4 separate regions of the Homo sapiens genome follow, and all the other regions are linked to region 4. The links come from fine-mapping of genetic effects on gene expression. A gene starts in region 4. Each other region holds a variant in brackets. All regions are shown on one strand. Distances are from middle to middle. Region 1 overlaps USP20 (ubiquitin specific peptidase 20). Region 2 overlaps ASS1 (argininosuccinate synthase 1). Region 3 overlaps FNBP1 (formin binding protein 1). Region 4 holds the start of FNBP1 (formin binding protein 1).

Region 1 (5,145 bases), 160 kb before region 4:
AATTAGCTGGGCTTGGTGGCAGGTGCCTGTAATCCCAGCTACTTGGGAGGCTGAGGCAGGATAATCGCTTGAACCTGGGAGGCGGAGGTTTCAGTGAGCTGAGATTGTGCCACTGCGCTCCAGCCTGGGCAACCGAGTAAGACTCCATCTCAAAAAAAAAAAAAAAAGAAAAAGAAAAGAAAGGAGTCTTCTGCGGGGAACTAGATGGCCAGGTGTCTAGGAGGGCTTTTCCTGGTGGGAGGGTTGGCTTGAGTAAGTGAAGCCTCATCGCCCGGGTGCTGTTGAGCTTAAAGAACCAGTAGATGGATCCCATTCTCAGCCTTGGCTGTGTTATTTTGGGCTGAATTATTCTTTATTGTGGGGCCGTCCTGTGCATTGTAGGATGTTTAGCAGCATTCTTGGCCTCTACCCACTAGTGCTAGTGACAACCAAAATGACCTCCAGAGATTGCCCAGGGTCCCCTGGGGTGCAGAGTACCCTCCCTGCCCTGGGTGAGAACCACTGGGCTCTACAGACTGCCCAAGATAAAGCAGGAAGTGAAAACCAAGGTGCAAACCAGGACTCAAGTGTGACTGTGTTTAGAAGAGGGACTTCTGTGAGGGAGCTGAGTGCAGGCGAGGCTCCTGGCGCACTCCCTCCCTGCCACGCTACTTCTAACAGGGTTAGGACGTGTTCCACTCACAGGGAGGGCCTGGTGAGAGACACTGAGGGACGCCCGTGCTTTGTGGCCATTAGGAAATGATTCTGCTGCCTGGGCATGGTGGCTCACGCCTGTGATCCCAGCACTTTGGGAGGCCGAGGCAGGTGGATCACTTGAGCCCAGGAGTTCAAGACCAACTTGGCCAACATGGCGAAACCCCATCTCTACAAACAATACAAAAATTAGCCAGGCATGGTGATGTGTACCTGTAGTCCCCGCTACCTGGAGGGCTGAGTGAGTTGGGAGGATCACCTAAGCCTGGGAGGTTGAGGCTGCAGTGAGCCGTGATCATGCCACTGCACCGCAGCCTGGGCAATAGAGTGAGACCCTGTCTCAGAACACAAACGAAAAAGAGACTGTCAGGGCTGGGCCTAGTGGTATGCACCTGTGGTCCAACCTACTCAGGAGGCTGAGGTGGGAGGATCACTTGAGCCCAGGAGGTCAAGGCTGCAGTGAGCCATGATTGCGCCGCTGCACTCCCGCCTGGGCACAGAGTGAGACCACCCCCCATCTCGAAAAAGAAAATGCTCCTGTCAGAAGGAGAGCTGCCTCTCTGAGCAGATAGGCACATTCTATTCAACCGGAGAAAATTAGCATCTCCCAGGCCGGGCGCAGTGGTTCATGCCTGTTATCCCAGCACTTTTGAGAGGTCGAGGTGGGCGGATCACCTGAGGTCAGGAGTTCAAGACCAGCCTGGCCAACATGGCGAAACCCCGTCTCTACTAAAAACACAAAAAGTAGCCAGGTGGTGGCACACACCTGTAATCCCAGCTACTCAAGAGGCTGAGGTGGGAGAATCGCTTGAACCTGGGAGGCAGAGGTTGCAGTAAGCCGAGATCGCGCCACTGCACTCCAGCCTGGGTGACAGAGTGAGATTCCTTCTCAAAAAGTAGAATCTCCCTTGTGGTCTCAGTTGGGTCAAACAGTTATTGAAGAGACCCACAAAATGTTACCACCGTCCTCTCTGAGTGATGGGTGTGTTCATTTTGTTTGAGCTTGTCTGGGGGTTTGATTTTTCACCTTGAGTATCTGGTGTTTTTGTAAGACTCTTGGGTGAGGGACTGGGGCGGGGGCATTTGGGAAATCCTTGCTGAAGGTAAATAGAGACTGACCTGCCCTCTGTCTCCTCCCGTCCCTGCCCGCCTGCCAGTTGAACAAGGCCTTCCAGGCCGAGGAGTCGCCGGGCGTCATCTACTGCATCAGCATGCAGTGGTTCCGGGAGTGGGAGGCGTTCGTCAAGGGGAAGGACAACGGTGAGCTGAGGGGGGACCTGGCACTTACCTGCCCTGGGGGCCTCCTGGGAGATGGGATGCTGGCAGGGGAGGGCTGGCACACAGGGGCTCCTGCAGGCCCCATGCCTGCCCCCAGGTGCCACCCATCCAGGGTGAACAGAGAGCATGGGGCTTTGCCAGTCCCCAGTGGGGATCACTGTCCCCACCCAGAGGCAGGAAGCTGCTCCTGCTCTGCGCCCCCTGCCCTTCTCCACTCCCTGCCATGCCCAGCAAGCTGCTCTGCCCTCCTGCAAGGCCCTTTCCTCAGGGGAGTGTGTCGCCCGAAATGACAGATTTGTCATCTGACTCCTTGGATTTACAGAGGTGGAGACAGGCCCCATCACAAGCTCCCAGGGTCCCCCAAGTCCCCAGTGAAGAACAGCAGAACCAAGCCATGGAAGCCCACAGGCTCTAAACTATTAAACCTGCATTAAAAATTTCGGCTGGGGCGCCCTCGGGGCATAATCTAACCTGTGGCTCCGGGGCCCGGCAGGGTGGGTAGAGCCCACGGTTCTGCTCACGGGACCCTTGGTGTGGAGCATGAGCACCCACCTGTGCTTGGGAAGGGAGGCCTCATTGCCATCCCGCTAGTCGGGGAAGGTGCCAGGGCCACCGTGAGGCCTCTCTGGTGGTGGCTGAGGCCTTCAGCATGGCTGTGGTTGAGAATGTAGCTCCGGAGCCCTCGCCCTGGCCTGGACGCTGGCCTTGCCTTCTACCAGCTATGACCTGAGTGGTTACTTCACCTTCCCAGGCCTCGGCTCTGTCTCTGTAAACCTCTGTCTTGTCCTGTGGTTGCCGAGGCTAAATGAGATAGCTGGGCAGAGGGGAAGGGGCGTGGTGAGCGGCAGCTGCCAGCAGAGATAAGGGCATGGGCCATCCACCGCAGCTCCTGCGGCC[A/C]GCACAGAGTCTGAGACCATCTCGTGTGTCCTGGAAATTCCCTCTGCTGGGTCCTCAGACTGCCACAGAGGAGCATTGGGTGGCTCAGGCGCCTCATCCATTAGAGACTTCACGCTGACCCCCAGGCCTGGGGCGGCCCCACTTGGGATGGCTCTGCTGCTGTGGAGGGTGGAGGGCATGGCAGGGGCTGAACCCGAGCCCGCTGTGTCTGTTGCAGAGCCCCCCGGGCCCATTGACAACAGCAGGATTGCACAGGTCAAAGGAAGCGGCCATGTCCAGCTGAAGCAGGGTGAGTTCCCCCTGGGGTCAGCCAGGCTCCTCTCTGCCCTTCCTGGCTGCCAGGCTGCTGCCCAGTCCCGTCCTTCCAGGAGCCCCCTTACCACCTGTCTTAGAGTCAGGCTGAGACGTCCACCTGAGTCCAGACCCAGGCGGCTGAGAGATGGCCCAAGGGGCTTGGTCTCTGCTTGTGTCCTCCAGGTCCCACCCCTCTGCCTGCTGCTGGCCTTGCCCACCCTGCTGTTTATGTCAGCCCCACCCCCAGGAACAAGGGACACAGCCAGAGATGTGTTATCCGGGGCCCTTAGCGGGATGGACATTCCTCTGGGAAATCCTGATTTCCATCTGACAGCTTTGCATAGAAGCCCTGGTTGCCGTCTTCCCGCTTCGGGGCCTGGCCCTGCGGAGCCCCCACTGCCCAGGCCGGTGGCTTCCTTGAGGAGGCAAAGGTGAGCCTAGGGGTGCCTCTCGTGCCCTGCAGGAGCTGACTACGGGCAGATTTCGGAGGAGACCTGGACCTACCTGAACAGCCTGTATGGAGGTGGCCCCGAGATTGCCATCCGCCAGAGTGTGGCGCAGCCGCTGGGCCCAGAGAACCTGCACGGGGAGCAGAAGATCGAAGCCGAGACGCGGGCCGTGTGATCTGCTGGGCTAGTCTGTAAGTCGCCCCGGCTGGTCCCTCCATGGCACTCTGGGTCCTCTCCTCACTCTCCAGAGACCCTCACATGTCCTTTTGAACATCCAAAGAGCAGGTCCCTGAAAGCACCTTCCTGGAGGATGTGGGAGGGCCCTGGACATGGCCCGGCCCCACTGCTGAGTGCCCGTGTCCCCACAGCCCCATGTGCCCCACCCCGCGGAAGGCGTGTTTGTGCCCAGAAGAGAGGCCGGGCTGCTGCAGAACCCCGCCGTGTAAAGAGGCAGAAAAGTTGGTTTGGTTTGCAGTAACGCTGCAACTAGAAAATATATGCACTTCAGGCTTGTTGAAACGACCAAGACTCTGTGACGTTAATTTGGGTCTTTGTCCTGGCAGTGCCTCTGCCAGTCACTGTCATCGTTGTGTCCCCCACAACTGTCCTCTTGCTAGCTCGGCCCAGCTTTGTCCCTGGAGCCCGATGCTACCCCTGTCAGACAGAGGCTGCGGCCTGGGCCAGAGTCAGGGAGTAGCTGCTGCTTCACGGCGTCTCCACTGTGCGATTGGCCCGGAGCCCCGAAGACTCGGAGGGAGCTGCTCAGGGCCGGTGAGCGCAGCCAGAAGCCCTGGCCAGTGAGGAGCTCACAGGTCCTCCCTGGTGGTCCCGCCGCACCTCTGCATCTCCTGGGCGTCACCAGGAAGGCTCTGAAGTCCCGGGCTGCTCTCAGCACTTCTCCTGCAGACTGAAGACTCTGGACTCATTGCTGATTGGAACACCAGGAGGAGGTTGGATTTCTGCCAGTGGGGGATGTTTCTGGAGGCAGCTGGTCCCCCACACCGCGTCCTGCTGAGCCTGCCCCCTGGATTGGCTGTAATTTGCCTCGAAGTTCAGCAGTTCATCTTCATGGGAAATTTGCTGAGCCCCCACCAGGGAACCGGATGATGAAACAGGGATACCTCACAGCTTGGCCATTTGAGGCAAAGGCAGCTTCCCGAGCTGATGCTAAAGAAGACAGACTTTCCCTTCCTCCCAGCAGCAGCAGTGCAGAGCCCACCTGGAGGGATGTGGGGGCTGTGCAGGGTGCAGCGCTCAGGTGGATCCTGGGAAGCAGCCTCTGGATGCTGAGTGGAGGGAGCCACTGAGCACAGCAAGGCACCAAAGCCCCTGGAGAAACCGCCAGGGCGAGGTGCGACCATCATCAGGATCAAAGCAGACGGGGCGTGGGTGGGGAAGGGGCTCTGGGACCAGACCCCCCACACTACTGCGTCTTTGTTTCTATCAGTCTTTGTAGAAGCAGGTGGTGGTGGAAATTCCAGCAGGTGGGTCCCGCAGAGGCCCTGAGGCCTCACTTTTCGGATCTTCTGTCCCA
Region 2 (5,145 bases), 440 kb after region 4:
ATGTCCGTTGTCTCTTCCACGGCAACACAGAGGCTCAGCTGTCATTTCCTCCTTCTCTCTGCGCAGTGGTTTGTATGCCGACTGTCAAAAGCCCCAAATTCATAGTCTTTTAGCATCAGGTTTCTGTCACTGTTTTTTTTTTCCAGAAGAAACACACAGAAATCATCTGTACCCCCTACCCCTGTGGAGAGGAGAGGGAAGAGCTTTAAACGCACACACACACACACACACACACACACACACGTGCGCGCGCGCGCGTCGGCAGCAACCTAAAAACAAGTTTTTTGATCCGTCACAATTAACACTTTCGAAGAAAAGGAGCAGGAATATTAATTGCACTGGTGTGTTTTGTGGCTGCAGCCTTTCCCCTTGCCCGTGAGCCCTCCGGAGGCTGCCTGGGAGGGTGGCAGCCAGGAAGCCGGTGCTGGGGGCTCAGGAAGAGGAGGGTTCTGCCTGGCCTCTGCCCACCAGACATTCTCTGCTCCCGGTGGCACTGGCCTCATTTTCCTGGGGACACCTGTGATGGGCCAGTAGCTGGAGGACCTTGGACAAGTCACAGCTCTTCCTCGAGCCCTGAACCCCACCTGCGCCCTCCCCTCTCTGGACTGATGGGAGGCGATGCTGTGGCCTCGAATGTTCTCGAGACAAGACTGTCAGTAAGTAGGGCACACCTGGAGGACGCTCTGAACACTTACCTTTGAGGTAGGTCCCAAAGGAAGTTGGAATGTCAGAGCAGCAGGAACTTGCAGCCTTCTTGTTTTCCAGATGGGTTGCCTGGGTCTAAGAGAGGGGGCTGAGACCGGCCAAAGTCACACAGCAAAGCCAAGCTGGGCACCTTCTGTAAAGGCCAAGCTGGGCACTTTCTGTAAAGCATGGTTGTAGGACTCCTGGTGCCCAGCTCCAGCCCTGCAAATGTAGTTTGGACTGCCCTACAGTTGGCCGAGCTGAGGACAGAAAAGCAGGGAGGCGGGCCTGGGTGTCTAGGAGTTGAAAATGAGGAGGGCTCCTGCTACCGGCCTACCCAGGATGGCGCCATTACGACTCTGTGGCCAGTGTAAGGATGGGCTTTGCAAGTTTCTGGAATTTTCCAAAATGTACCCAAACTAATCACTAGAAGGCCTGTTTCCAACCCGATATGTATCCAGTTCTAGCATGTGCCAGGATGGAGGACCAGCAGGACTTTGTCAGTGTCGTGCTCTTGGGAAATTGCTTTATTTCTGGTAATAAGGTTTCTAGGCTGATTGAAAATTTGCTCCTCGAACTTTATCGTTATATCTGCCATTTTGGAGACAGAGATTTCCTGTTTCTGCACACACTGGTCTTTCTGGACACACTGCTGAACCATTCCCCTTTCTGGTGGCTTTTTTGGCACTGTCATGTTTGTGTGCGGTCATCATGTTTTGTTTTGTTTCTCTTTCAGACAGGGTCTTGTTCTGTCACCGAGGCTGTAGTGCAGTGGTACGATCATGACTCACTGCAGCCTCAACCTCCTGGGCTCCAGCAATCCTCCCACCTAGCATACACCACCACACCCAGCTAATTTACCATTTTTTTGTAGAGACGGGGTCTCCCTATATTGCCTGGGTTGGTCTTGAACTCCTGGGCTGAAACGATCCTCCCACCTTGGCGTAGTAGCTAGGACCACGGGCACATGCCACCACGCCCAGCTAATTTTTTTAATTTTTTGGTAGAGATGGGGTCTCACTATATTGCCCAGGCTGGTCTTGGACTCAGCTCAAGCAATCCTCCCTCCTTGGCCTCCCAAAGTTCTGGGATTACAGGTGTGAGCCCCCGCATACCTGGCCTGTGCTAAGTTCTATGTCCCTGTTCTCCAGGCTGTCTATAATGACTTTTCTCAGTCATTCCTCTGTTTCTGCTGCCATCAGCCTTTTTACCCCTTCCTGGTTTGTGGCTCTGAGCTACTCTGCAGAAAATGATGACGGACCCATTTGAACTGTTTTACAAGAGTCACGGTGAGGCCTGAGGAACTCCCGAGGGATTTGAGGGCTTGGATCTCTGCATAAACTTGGAGAGAGGCCATTTCCTAATCAGAGGTCACAACTAGATTCAGACGGTGGACATGCCGAAGGCTGCAGCCCCCACCAATGAAGCGGGATGGGCTCTTTCACAGCACACGATACTCATATTTGCACCTGGTTGCTCTGAGGGGCTTTCACAAGCATGTCA[C/T]CTGACACCAGTATATCAGGGGTTTACAGATGAGAGAACCAAGCCCCCAGAGAGGTTCCCTTCTGCCCAGGAACACGGAGCCATGGTGAGAACCAAGCTTTTCCTCCACAGCAACAGCCTGGACTTGGGCTTTTTCTCTCACGCTCTGGTTAGCAGTTGATCACTTTGCCAAAGGCCCTTCGAGGCCACCTGGAGCTGAGATGGGAGACCCCGGGGCCGGGCCCATTCCCCCTCCAGTTGGCTGGGTGGTATTAGGCAAGCCACCCCCCTCCCCAGGCCTCAGGTTCTCATTTGTAAAACTGGTGTGTGGGACTAGATTTAAGGTGAGTCCAGAGTTTGCAGAGGGGCCTCTGTTCCTCCCAGCACAACCTCTGCCATCTCTTCTATATGCTGGGCTTCTGCCGCAGGCTGTTTGAATATTAGGTTGGCAGCTAACAGTCGGGAGAACACGGTACCGGATTGATCCTAATGCAAGCTCTGACATTTCCGTGATTCTAAGACTTAAAGATCAAAGACTGGAGGAGTTCTCCAAGGAGGAAACTTCTGGTTAGTGCACGAGGGCTCAGCAGACTCAGCCTCCCCAGATCCCCGGTAGGCTTCAGAGTCAAAACCAATATCCTTCATGGTTTTTTTTTTTTTTTAATTTAAAACTGTGGTAAAATACATGTAACATAAAATGAACCATTTTAAAATGCGTAAGCGTGCCGCTCAACGGCATTAGGTCCTTTCCCAGGGCTGTGCCACTGTGACTACCGTCCACCTCCAGAACATTTTCTTTTTGCAAAGCTGAGACTCTGGCCCCATGAAACTCCCCATTTTCCCTACCCCGGCCCCTGGCAGCCACCATTTCTGGCTGTATGATTTTGATGACTCGAGGGACCTCGCATGAGTGGAACATACAGTGTTTGTTTTTGTGCCTGGCCTTTGTCACTTAGCGTCACGGCCTTATGTTGATGCTGTGGCATGTGTCAGGATTTCCTTCCTTTTTTTTTTTTAGACAGAGTCTTGCTTTGTCACCCAGGCTGGAGTGCAGTGGTGTGAAATCAGCTCACTGCAACCTCTGCCTCCCAGGCTCCAGTGATCCTCCTGCCTCAGCCTCCCAAGTAGCTGGGGCTACAGGCATGTACCACCATGCCCGGCTAAATTTTTTTGTTATTTTTAGTAGAGACGGGGTTTCACCATGTTGGCCAGGCTGGTCTTGAACTCCTGACCTGAGGTGATCCACCTGCCTCGGCCTCCCAAAGTGCTAGAATTATTACAGTCATGAGCCACTGTGCCCGGCCCCCTTCCTTCTTAAGGCTGAATAATATTCCATCGTATGGATGGACTGCATTTTGCTTCTTCACTCATCCCTCGATGGACACCTGGGTTGCTTCCGCCTCTTGGCTATTGTGATTAATGCTGCTATGAACATGAGTGTACAAATCCTTTCTGGGTTTTTTTCAAGCAGCCACTGTAGAAAGATGTTAGTAAATTCCCAGGATAACTGAGAACCTGCCCTTTTAGTGATGTAACGTATGGTGGAAGAAAGGAAGCTCTCGGGGTAGAATCCATGGAGATGGGGGAGCTATGGCCCCTGCTCCACCCAGACAGCAGCTGCAGGGCAGGCTTGCCCAAGGGCCAGCTCTGAAGTTGATGCGAGAGGTCGCACTCCTGGGGCAAGAGGGGGCCTGGGCTGTGTGCTGTGGGCGGTCCTGCCTCTTGGTGCCCCACTGTCCTCCAATGCAGTAGGACCTTCCCCCAGACCCAGCTCAGCCCAAGACCAGGCATTTCTGTCTCACTCGGAGATCATCTGTTCCAAGCAGGTTGTTTTCCAAATGGAGGGACTGGGCCTGAGGTCACAAGAGGGGACTTGAGCAATCCCTTCTCCCCTGACCTTCCAGGGTTGGGCCTCCACGGCCAGGTGACTTACAGGGCAGCAGACAGCACTGGTGAGGGACTCGGGGGCCTACATTCAGTTCCCAGCTCCACCTAGAGCAAGTCCCTTCTCCTCTTGAGCTCAGTTTCCCCATCTGCACGGTGCGGTCAGCCTAGGTGATTGCCCAAGCCCTCTGCCACCCCAGTGGCCTCTGGAGAGACCTGGCCGCAGGGGCCCCATGGGCTGAAGGTGGCATGTGTGTACACATGTGTACATGTATGTGCACAGCTGTCCCCCTCCCCTGGCTCCCTGGTGGAAGGGAAGAAGGGATATTTGGGGCTCTGGGCTCTACCGTAGTCGCTTTAATTACAGGCTTTCAACCTCGGGCCGGTGGGCACGCATGGGGAGGGAGGGGTTGCTGCTCCGAAACCCTGTCATTTTCTAGCGTCTGAGGGCCCCTTCAAAGGGGGCATCTAGACATTTTCTCCACAAGCCGCAGAGTGGACTGTCGTGGCCCCAGCATGAACATAATGACAGATGCATTTTGCAGCAAGCTGGGAGTGAATGGGTCCGGCCGGCTTGTCTCCTGTCAGACGACTCATTATTATTATTATTTTTTTTTTTGTCATTTGCTGACAGTTTGGGTTTCATGCGTTTCTCTCTTTTTTCTCCTTTTCCCCCTGCCTGGAAAAATGGCTAGGTATCTACGAGACCCCAGCAGGCACCATCCTTTACCATGCTCATTTAGACATCGAGGCCTTCACCATGGACCGGGAAGTGCGCAAAATCAAACAAGGCCTGGGCTTGAAATTTGCTGAGCTGGTGTATACCGGTGCGTAAGACTCTATGGCTGCCCCCTCTAACCGCCTCACAAGGGATCCCAAAGTACTATCAGGCTCTCGGGCCTGGCCCTCCCCTCCGTATCAGCACCTTCCTCCCCTGCCGCCCACTGCCATCCTCATGTGAGACCCCAAAAGGTGCAGGCCAAAGGGGGTTGAGGGAAAGTGCAGGGCATGAGGGAGCAAGGGGATGCTAGAACCTGCCTTGCCATGGGGTGTGTCCAGGGAGATGCACCGGCTTCCCAAGGTGTCCGGCAGCTT
Region 3 (5,145 bases), 150 kb before region 4:
AGAATCTGACCCAACACCTTCATTCTGACCCATTTGTAGTGGGTTGTCTATGATCTCGGGGTGGATTCTGGAAATGGGCACAGTGAAATGCCTGGCAACCATCTACGCATGTGACCAACTTCACTATCTCCCCTCCCACATCAATGCCAATTTAAAAATGCAAATTCTCATGTGGCCTAGATTCCTTTCGATGTGGTGAGACATTTTACTTCATTCTGGCTACAGTTAATTGTATAAAATGAGCCAGAAATTCTAAAATAATTTCCAGTAAATCCAAACCTTGCCAATGATTAAAAGCAGAAACAAAACAAAACAAAAACAACAACAACAAAAAAACAAAAGCAAACCCCCAAAGTCTTTGAACAGCAATGTGCTGAGATCTGTGTCTGTGGGGAGAAGCATTTGCTGCCACACCACGTTCTCTTTATAGCCCCACCTGGGCAAGCGTGAGTGCAGCTCTACTTGGAAAACCAACAGAAACCGAACCAAGTGTGAGAGGAAATCACAGCCAAAAGGAGCTGATGCAGGGACACGCTCTGCCTTTTAAGTAACTCCATCTAAACAGCACTAGCACATCTGATCAACTGTCAATTTGGGCCAGGTGCGGTGGCTCACGCCTATAATCCCAGCACTTTGGGAGGCAGAAGCAGGCAGATCACTTGAGGTCAGGAGTTTGAGACCAGCCTGGCCAACAGAGCGAACCCGTCTCTACTAAAAATACAAAAATTAGCCAGGCGTGGTGGTGCACACCTGTAATCCCAGCTACTCGGGAGGCTGAGGCAGGAGAATCGCTTGAACCTGGGGGAGGCGGAGGTTGCAGTGAGCCACTGTACTCCAGCCTGGGCAACAGAGCCAGACTCTGTCTCAAAACAACAACAACAACAAAAACACAAACACAACAACAAAAACCTGTCAATTTGATGACACTTGGAAAATCAGCAATGCAATGTAAAAATCAAGTGGTCAATTCACCAAACTTTTCCAGATTTCAGCTGGTTGTCTGGGATCATGTAGATGGAACAGGGTACTCGTGATGCCCTACCAAGGATGCTGACCAGGTTTAAGTAAAAACACACACTTTTGGTGCCAATATAAGAATCTTATTTACTGCTTTAGTCAAGAAGGAGATGTTATTTCACTTGTGACTTCCTCCCAAGTGAATGAGTATACAATTTAACAAACTAACACAGTTCAGTTTATTAAGTTACAATCTGTAACCACCTAATGTAGCTCAGTGTATGGTGGATACTAGATATAAACAAGAGTAGGGAAGTCTTTGGCACCTGCATGATGCGTGCCGGCTTTTAAATTCAGAAAGATGAGAAGCTACAATGCAACTTTTTTTTTAATCTACAGATACCGCCAAAAGAAGAAATGTTTATCAGATTTTGAATGACATAGCTGTAAGTTGGCGGTTGGCAGCTTTCCACATAAAATTTCATCAGCAAGTGAAACTTGATTACAGCCCAAACTAGACAAGGCAATTCAGGTGCCCAGACCCTGAAGTCCACGTGAGACTACAGGAGAACGTGCATTATGGTGCTTGCCAGCCAGTCTCTTGAGGAACTGCCTGTAACAGTCATGGTTGTGGGGAGAAACAACTCCATTTTTTTTAAGTTTTTTTTTTTTATGGTATTAAATATAAGTCTTAGCACCTTTGGCATTTTTGTCCAAACAGACTTCGACATATGAAGTGGGGACATAACCCTCTTCATCTTCATTTCTCCGAATGCGGGTCCAGCCATCGCCTTTGTCTTCCTCTATGACATACAATGTTTCTCCTTCAACTACGGAAATCGTTCCTTCATTCTGACCTGAAAAAGCAATATCAGGATATGTTAGATGTCTTGGCAAATGCAGGGAGGAAGCAAACAGTGGCCTTCGCAATGAAACAAGTGTCGTCGAAGATGAAGTCCACACAAAATTCACCCCACTCGGACCTTCTCAGATGCACGGACCCCTCACCCACTGCCTCAAAACCATCTCCTTCTGCACAGAAATGTCCAGGTTCTTACCTCTGTCTCTCTAGGGACCCTCTCTAAGTCCTCCAGGGCCCTCTTTCTCCTCCCTCCCAGAATGGTAAGTATTTCTCACTGGATAAATCTTTGGTTCTCTTCTCTAGTCTTCTTCTGTCTCACTTGGATCTCTCTCAGGAGAAAGGTACCCTCGTGGCTCCAACTGCTTCTCTTTTGTCTGTTATTTTTTGGGGGGGTTGTGGGGGATGGAGTCTTGCTCTTGTTGCCCAGGCCAGAGTGCTGTGGTGCAATCTCAACTCACTGCAACCTCCACCTCCCCGGTTCAAGCGATTCTCCTGTCTCAGCCTCCCGAGCAGCTGAGACTATAGGTGTGCACCACCACACCCGGCTAACCTTTCTATTTTTAGTAGAGATGGGGTTTCACCATGTTGGTCAGGCTGGTCTGACTCCTGACCTTAGGTGATCCACCAGCCTCAGCCTCCCAATTTTTTTGTTGTTGTTGTTTGTTTGTTTTGAGACAGAGTCTTGCTCTGTTGCCCAGGCTGGAGTGTGATGCCACTTGTCCCGGGTTCAAGTGATTCTCCTGCCTCGGCCTCCCGAGTAGCTGAGATTACAGGCATGTGCCACCACGCCCGGCTAATTTTGTATTTTTAGTAGAGACGAGGT[T/C]TCACCATGTTGGTCAGGCTGGTCTTGAACTCCTGACCTCAGGTGATCCACCCGCCTCGGCCTCCCAAAGCGCTGGGATTACAGGCGTGAGCCACCACGCCCGGCCCAACTGCTCCTCTTTAAACACTGTCCTCACATATTGCTTCCATTCTGGTACTTTCTGCAGCCAAGATTCCACTTTTCCCACTGTCTGCAGCACACTGCCACCTAGACATGGCCCCAACACCTGAAACAACATAGATGAACCTGGATTCACTGTTCTTCCTCCTAACTATATCCTCCTGCTTTTCCACTTCCCTAGACCTCTCTGTCCTCCCAGGAATGCAACTCTGGGAGCCGTCTTGGATTTCCTCTCCTTTTTGTTCCTGGCTTTTGATCAGCCCCGAATATATGCAGTTTGTCAATGGCGGCATCTCTGTATCCATTCCTTGAACAAGGCCCCCAAGACCTTCTGCTAGGATCATTTCAAAGGCTGCCCACCACCCCCCAGTTTTCTGCAAGGCAAAGAGTTTAGGGAGCTGTTAACAGGGCAACAGGGTACGGTGGGGGATGGTTGGAATATGAAGTAAAACTGGGAACGTTTAAACTGGTACGTCTTTCTTATTTTGTCACAATGAACATTTAGTCTATTAAAGGCTCTGAAAAGTCCTGTAGTAAAGAAATCTGTAAAATTTATTTATCCCAGGGCTTCCCAAACTTACTTGAGCTCTGATTGCTAGTTTTAAAAATTTATTCATTATATTAAAATGCAACTTTTTCGTAATTTTATTTATTTATTTATTTATTTTTTAGAGAGGGTTTCACACTATCGCCTAGGCTGGAGTGCAGTGGTACGATCATAGCTCACTGTAGCCCTGAACTCTTGGCCTCAGCCTCCCAAAGTGCTGGGATTACAGGTGTGAGCCACTGAGCCTGGCCTGAGAGCTTCTTTCATGGCCTCCTTATTAACGCTCTGCAGGACATCGTTTCAAGGTTCATTGGTTTAGAAACACTAAGCTAGTTTATCTTTTCTTTCTTTTTTTTGAGACAGAGTTGCCCTCTGTTGCCCATACTGGAGTACAATGGCACGATCTTGGCTCACTGCAACCTCTGCCTCCTGGGTTCAAGCAATTCTCATGCTTCAGCCTCCCGAGTAGCTGGGATTACAGGCGCCCGCCACCACGCCTCACTGATTTTTGTATTTTTAGTAGAGACGGGGTTTCATCATGTTGGGCAGGCTGGTCTAGAACTCCTGACCTCAGGTGATCTGCCTGCCTCAGCCTCCCAAAGTTCTAGGATTACAGGCGTGAGCCACCATGCCCGGCCTGGGCTAGTCTTTCTAACCATCCTCCATGTCTTCCAGTGGATCCTACACATCTGACGATGACTTTCCTAAGGTACAGCTCTGACTGCATCGACACCCTGCTAGGGGACCTCCCATAGCTCCTCAATGTTTGCCACATAAAACCCAGATGTTTCCCTACCTCGCCCCCATTGGCACTTCCCACTCTTTAGTGCCACATTTCACTATTAGGACTTAAGACATCTAAGCTCCAGCCACACCACACCCATTTCTGGCCACACCCCCCATGCCATGGCAAGTTCTCCAAACTTCCTTAAGGAAGCGACCTCATTCTCCCCTGTCCTCCCCGTTCCTCTGTATCCCTCTTCTGGCAAACACTGCAAACTGCCTGCTTTTTTTTTTTGAGAGGGAGTCTTGCTCTGTTGCCAGGCTGGAGTAAAGTGGCACGACCTCGGCTCACTGCCACCTCCGACTCCTGGTTTAAGTGAGTCTCCTGCTTCAGCCTCCCAAGTAGCTGGAATTACAGGCATGCGCTACCACGCTTAGCTGATTTTTGTATTTTTAGTAGAGATGGGGTTTCACCATGTTGGCCAGGATGGTCTCGATCTCCTGACCTCACGATCCGCCTGCCTCGGCCTCCCAAAGTGCTGGGATTACAGGCGTGAGCCACTGCACCCAGCCGCTGCTTGCTCCTTAAGTGTGTCTGCCTGATTTCCCTCTGGGCAGGTGCCATATCATACGACCTGCATCCCCCCACTTCATGGGCCTTTACAAGACAGGAGCGCTATAGATACTAGATATTAAATGAATGGATGAAATGATCATCCTCCCTATCGTCTGCTGCAGTGAAGCAAGCTCTCTGGAAGCTGTTAAGTTATACGAACCAAAAGTCAAAATATACAACCAAATAATAATCATACCATGAGTAGGATAAAAGCATAGTAGAGAAGGATCTGGAAGGCTGCTGCTGCAGCTTTTTTTTTTTTTTTGAGACAGAGTCTCGTTCTGTCACCCAGGCTGGAGTACAGTGGCGCTATCTCAGCTCACTGCAACCTCCGCCTCCCGGGTTCAAGTGATTCTCGTGCCTCAGCCTCCCGAGCAGCTGGGATTACAGGCGCCTGCCAGCATGCCCAGCCAGTTTTTGTATTTTTAGTAGAGATGGGATTTCACCATGTTGGCGAGGCTGGTCTTGAACTCCTGGCCTCAAGTGACCTGCCCGCC
Region 4 (5,145 bases):
AGTGAGCCGAGATCACGCCACTGCACGCCAGCCTGGGCAGGCAACAGAGCAAGACTCCGTCTCAGAAAAAAAAAAAAAAAGAATGTCTTTTTAAAAACTCCTCATTGCCATACACTTGCATATATAGAACTGTTAACTGATTCATTCTTCCTCATAAAATTGTCAAGTGAAAAAATTACAAATAGTTCACATCCTTCTCCTTTAAAACTATTTTCCAATTATTTTTATTGTAGAAAATGTCAAATATATATACTAGAAAGAATAGTGTAATGAATACTTCTGTACTCAGCATTTGGCTTCAATAATGGCCAACTCTGTCTCACTATCTCCCATCTACTAACAACCCAAATTATTGTGAAGCAAATATAAGATTTCATATCATTAATATTTGTATATATTCCAGTTCCCATTTATTATTTTTTTCTTTTTTCTTTTTTCTTTTCTTTTTTTTTTTTTTAAGAGGAGGCCTCTCCAGATATTCCCCAAGCTGTTCTTGAACTCCTGGGCCCAAAAGATCCTCCCGACTCAGCCTCCCAAGGTGCTGGCAATATAGGCCTGAGCCACTGCGCCCGGCCTCTCTCATTTATTTTCAATCACTCCTAACCCTGCCTTCCTTCCCACTTCTGCACCCTCAAAAAGAAATGTACAGAATAATGCAAGCAATTGCCGCTGTTTTAGCAGTTTTGCTCATAGCCACTGCCTCTCTTTGGAATTATATTCTATCCCATTCACCAACATCACTGAACTGTCCACCAAGGTATTGTGTTCGGTCCCTATTTCACTCAGAAATATATTGTACATTTTCCCTCCATAATTCCATCCACCTGTCTGAACAAGTGAAAAAAAAATTGTGCCACAATTTCTACTGTCTTGACAAAGATTACTTCTGATTTGCTTCCCCACCCCAGATAAGCTAAAGAGAGCTAAAGGGAGTGGAAGGATTAGAAGAGGAAAGAAACTTCAATACGGTACTCAAAGTCATAGATTTTGCCTAAACTGGTGTGTGCAAATATTTTAAACTATTTTATTTTCAAAATGGATACTTGTAAACATCAGCGGAAATTTTGTCATGAATCCCTTTTAGGCAGAAGATGTTTATAAAATGAATTATCTTAATTTAAGGGAGCTATTGCCCTCAGGATTTTGGTAATAACAACCGTAGCTGCTTCTGTACCTAACAAATGGTTATGTAAAAACAATTAAAGCAAAAGAAAACAAAACAAAAAACAAGGGAGGATGTGCTCTGTTTCTGTAATTGCTCTAACCTTGTTTTATTTTGATATGAGATTTCTTGGCCTCATCTCAGATAGCAACACCACCCTACACTTTCTCCTCCACACCCTTTGCAAATAGAATTCCAAAAGGTAGTTCAGGCACTTTAGAGTTCATCCTGGGAAATGGCTCATCTTGAGGGCATTTCAGTGCAGTAACTGAGATTTCGTCTGCTCCTTCCCGGGCCGCCGCACTGCCCATCCCCTGCCCAGTGATTTCCCCAGGAATCCGGGGACGGCAGGAAAAGAGCTCCATCCACAGCCAGCCCCTCGCCTTTCCGGGGACGGCCCTCAGCCCTGAGGGCTGCCCGTTTACCGTGCGCATCCCCCGGCCAAGCATCCCCGCAAGGCGCCCCTCACCGCCAACTTTCCCCACTGGAAACTATTCTCCGAGCAACCGTTAAAGATCATTGACCCCGCGAACGCCTCTTCCTGAGGTAGATCACGTAAGATCTCTCCCTAACTCCCACTTTCCCCTCCAGACCAGACGTCGCAGTGCCCACATCCCACTCAGGATTGAGCTACCCCGAAAGAACAAGTGCGCCCGGAGCCGCCACGGGCCAGAAGTCCTCGCCTCCAGAGCGAAGACCGCACTCTCGCCCCAGCACCCCAAAACCCGACCCCCGGCGCTCGCCCCGGCCGCCCCGCTCCCGGGGAAGTGCCCGATCCGCCAGCGCCTCCGCGGAGCCAGGACAGAACTCGCGGCCGGGGCGCCCCGAGACCCAACGCAGCGCCGCGCAGCCGGGGCCTCCACGCCCCCACGCCCGGTCCCGGCCCTCCCCGGGCATCCGCGGCTCGCCCCGGGGGATTAGGGCTCGGCCCGACACACACGGCCCGCTCCGGGGCGCCGGGGACAGGGAGGCCCGCCCGCGCCGTTCCTCAGGCCGCCGGGGACCCGCACCAACTCCCCTCGCCTCCGAAGGACAAGCCGGCCCGCACCTCCTGCTCGGGCCAAGGCGGACGAGGGGCATTGGAACCCCGCCTCCTCCCCAGGCCGCGAGGACCCCGACCAGCGCGCCCTCGCCTCCGCCCAGCAGCGCGGCCCGCGCCCCCTCCCCAGGCCGCGGGGAAACGCAGCGCGCGCCCCGCATCTGCCCGCGGGCCCAGCCCCTCACTCACCCAGAGCTCGGTGCCCCAGCTCATGGTGCAGGGGACGCGAAGGGGCGCTCCGCGCGGCGGGCGCGGCTCTCTGGTCCCCCTCCCCGGCGATCCCTTTGCCCCCCGAGATCCCCGCGACGGCGGAAAGCCCGGAGTCCGCGCGGCCTCCTCCGGCTCGCAGCTCCTCGCCCGGGGTCTCCTCGGCGGCTCCTCCTCCCCGCCGCTCCACAGCAAAATGGCCCGAGGAAGCAGCAGCCGCGGCCGCCGCAGCGCCCGCCCGCCCTACACCCGGAGAGCGGGGGAGGGGCGGGAGGGGAGGGGCGGGGCCGGTCTGACAGCTCGCGCACGCGCGCCCGCCCCACCCCGGCCCGGCCCCCTCCCCCGGGCTCCCCCGGCCGGGTCCGCGTCGCCCTGGGGTCCGGAAGGACGCGGAGGGAGGTGTGAGGGACGGCGGGACCCGGATCCCTAGGACTCCCCCTGCCAATCTGGTAATGACTTCTTAGTGACCACTGTCTGCTCGCAGTACTAGCGCTTGCCTTGGAACGCGGCAGGCCCTGGGATCACCGATGCTCCGCCGCGGTCTGAGATCGCTCCCCTGCGCGTATCGCCGCTCTGGATTTAAGGACAATACTTTCCCCTGGCAGCCATGCGCGCCGAGCAGAGTCAGCCCGGGAGGCTCTTTTCCCACCGCCCGAGGGAAGCCCGAGAGTCCCGCAGGCTGGCGCGGTGGGAGTGGGGCGGTGGTAACTGCGCGCTGTGCGAATAGAGACGTCGAGGCAAGCGCGACGGCCTCGAGTGGCTAGGGAAAGAATCCAGGGGCGTGCACCCAGTGATTTCCAATCTCTGAAACCAGTGATTTCCAACTTGTTCAGCCAAGAAACTCTCAGGCGTGAAATCACGTTACCGCCTAGTGGGTAAAAGCAAAGGCGTGGGGTACACAGATAACTTGTTTGGTTCAAATCCAGCCTCCCGCACGTGCTGGCCGGGCGGAGGCGGACAATTGCTCCACCTCTGGAAGCGCAGAGCGCAGTCCACCAAATGGAGGCAAATAACGTGTCCATCTCACTGCCCGGCGGTGAGGATCAGGGGTGGGCCAAGGCCGAAGGTTGGTAAACCCAGCGCTCATTTTATCAGCAGACGGACTCCCTCTCTATATATCCAAAGGTCTGCACAAATGTTCCTGACAAGCTATGGAAAATGTTTGGAATTCCAACTCCTGAATCACTAGCCCTTTCCCCACAGCTTATCTTTCTCCCTCGGTTAATGCTACTACTGGATCCTTTTCTGAGAAACCGTGCGACTCCCAACATGGGCCCCCAGTTAAAAAATATTTTACGATGATGCATTTCTCCAATCCCACCCCACCATTTTCAACCTGCTTATCATTCTCCTCCATTAAAAGGTGGAGCTAACCCGGGTCTGGTGGCTCACGCCTGTAATCCCAGCACATCAGGAGGCCCAGGTGGGAGGATGGCTGGAGGCCAGGAATTTGAGACCAGCCTGGGCAACATCGCAAGACCCTGTCTCTACAAAAAGAAAAAAAAAAAAGTTAGCTGGGCATGGTGGCATGCACCTGTGGTCCCAGCTACTTGGGAGACTGAGACAGGAGGATCGCTTGAGCCTAGAAGGTTGAAGTTGCAGTGAGCCATGATGGTGCCATTGCCCTCCAGCTTGAGCAACAGAGCAAGACCCTGTCTCAAAAATATTAACAATAATGAATTAAAGCCGGGCATGGTGGCTCACGCCTGTAATCCCAACACTTTGGGAGGCAGAAGTGAGTGGATCATCTGAGGTCAGGAGTTTGAGAGCAGCCTGGCCAACATGGAGAAACCCCGTCTCTACTAAAAACACAAAAGTTAGCTGGGCGTGGTGACAGGGCGCCTGTAATCCCAGCTACTCAGGAGGCTGAGGCAAGAGAATCGCTTGAACCCGGGAGGCAGAAGTTGGAGTGAGCCAAGATTGTGCCACTGCACTCCAGCCTGGGTGACAGAGCGAGACTGTCTCAAAAAATAAAATAAAATGAATAATAATAATAAATTAAGAGGTGGAGCTACTAAACAAAAAACAAAACAAAAAAAAACCTCTTGCAGATAAACCTCCAACTCTACTTCCTTTGTTGGGCAGTTACAATAAATTTAAGTTGTCAAAACTGTTTTGGTCTGCCTTTTTTCAGTTACAACCCTCCCTTCCTGCCCACCCCCATTCTTGTGTCTGTATAAATATTTTGCTCTCAGTTACCAGGTCTGAATTCTCTTTCCTCCAGAGACTGCTAGATATATAACAATGAGAACGGCCAGCTACCTATCTCCTAAGGCAGATTAATAGCCAGAGTGAGTTGGAGGGGGAAATTCAAACAATGCTGCACAGTTTAGTCTGCTAAAATTTGGAAACGGTACATGCAATGCAGGTTTATCTAACAAGACATTGCCTCAGTAATCACCTTCCTGCCAGGGCTTGACTTTTTAGTCAAATACAATGATCTAATCTTGACCAAGTTATTGGAGACTTCTCAAAAACAGTGACCACTTGTGAAAATACTCTAATCAAGAAGTAAAACAACCTGCTGCTTTAAAGAGGAGAAAGAGGAAGAGGAAGGGACAGCAGAAGAAAAAAAGAGACCACATGAAGATGAAACTTTTTAAGACGAGTAAGCAGGAGATTGTTAGTTATAGGAAGGAACCCATTAAAAGCTGCCGCAGAACTCTATGGATGTGAGTTAATTATACAACACTGCAAATATCTTTAACTTCATTAAGCTTTGGCAGTAACTGGAAAA

What was found. PIP is the estimated chance that this variant, and not a neighbour inherited with it, causes the effect.
Region 1: its variant is fine-mapped to the expression of FNBP1 in whole blood (TOPMed, PIP above 0.99).
Region 2: its variant is fine-mapped to the expression of FNBP1 in substantia nigra (GTEx, PIP above 0.99).
Region 3: its variant is fine-mapped to the expression of FNBP1 in whole blood (INTERVAL, PIP 0.95).

Annotation. Positions count from the first base shown.
Region 1 is chr9:129,876,488-129,881,632 of GRCh38, forward strand. USP20 (ubiquitin specific peptidase 20) reads left to right here. Exons shown (of 26, transcript NM_001110303.4): 23 at 1,851-1,953; 24 at 3,086-3,157; 25 at 3,626-3,802; 26 at 3,980-5,145. The coding sequence ends at 3,786. Among named protein-coding and RNA genes, the nearest start is that of MIR6855, 9.5 kb to the left of the region's middle. The variant A/C (reference allele first, on the strand shown) is at 2,869.
Region 2 is chr9:130,484,588-130,489,732 of GRCh38, forward strand. It overlaps ASS1 (argininosuccinate synthase 1), which reads left to right. Exons shown (of 15, transcript NM_054012.4): 12 at 4,746-4,877. Among named protein-coding and RNA genes, the nearest start is that of ASS1, 42 kb to the left of the region's middle. The variant C/T (reference allele first, on the strand shown) is at 2,188.
Region 3 is chr9:129,894,183-129,899,327 of GRCh38, forward strand. FNBP1 (formin binding protein 1) reads right to left here. Exons shown (of 17, transcript NM_015033.3): 16 at 1,656-1,814. Among named protein-coding and RNA genes, the nearest start is that of MIR6855, 27 kb to the left of the region's middle. The variant T/C (reference allele first, on the strand shown) is at 2,643.
Region 4 is chr9:130,040,562-130,045,706 of GRCh38, forward strand. FNBP1 (formin binding protein 1) reads right to left here and starts at 2,628. Exons shown (of 17, transcript NM_015033.3): 1 at 2,391-2,628. The coding sequence starts at 2,414. RefSeq lists silencers at 1,991-2,150, 2,331-2,890.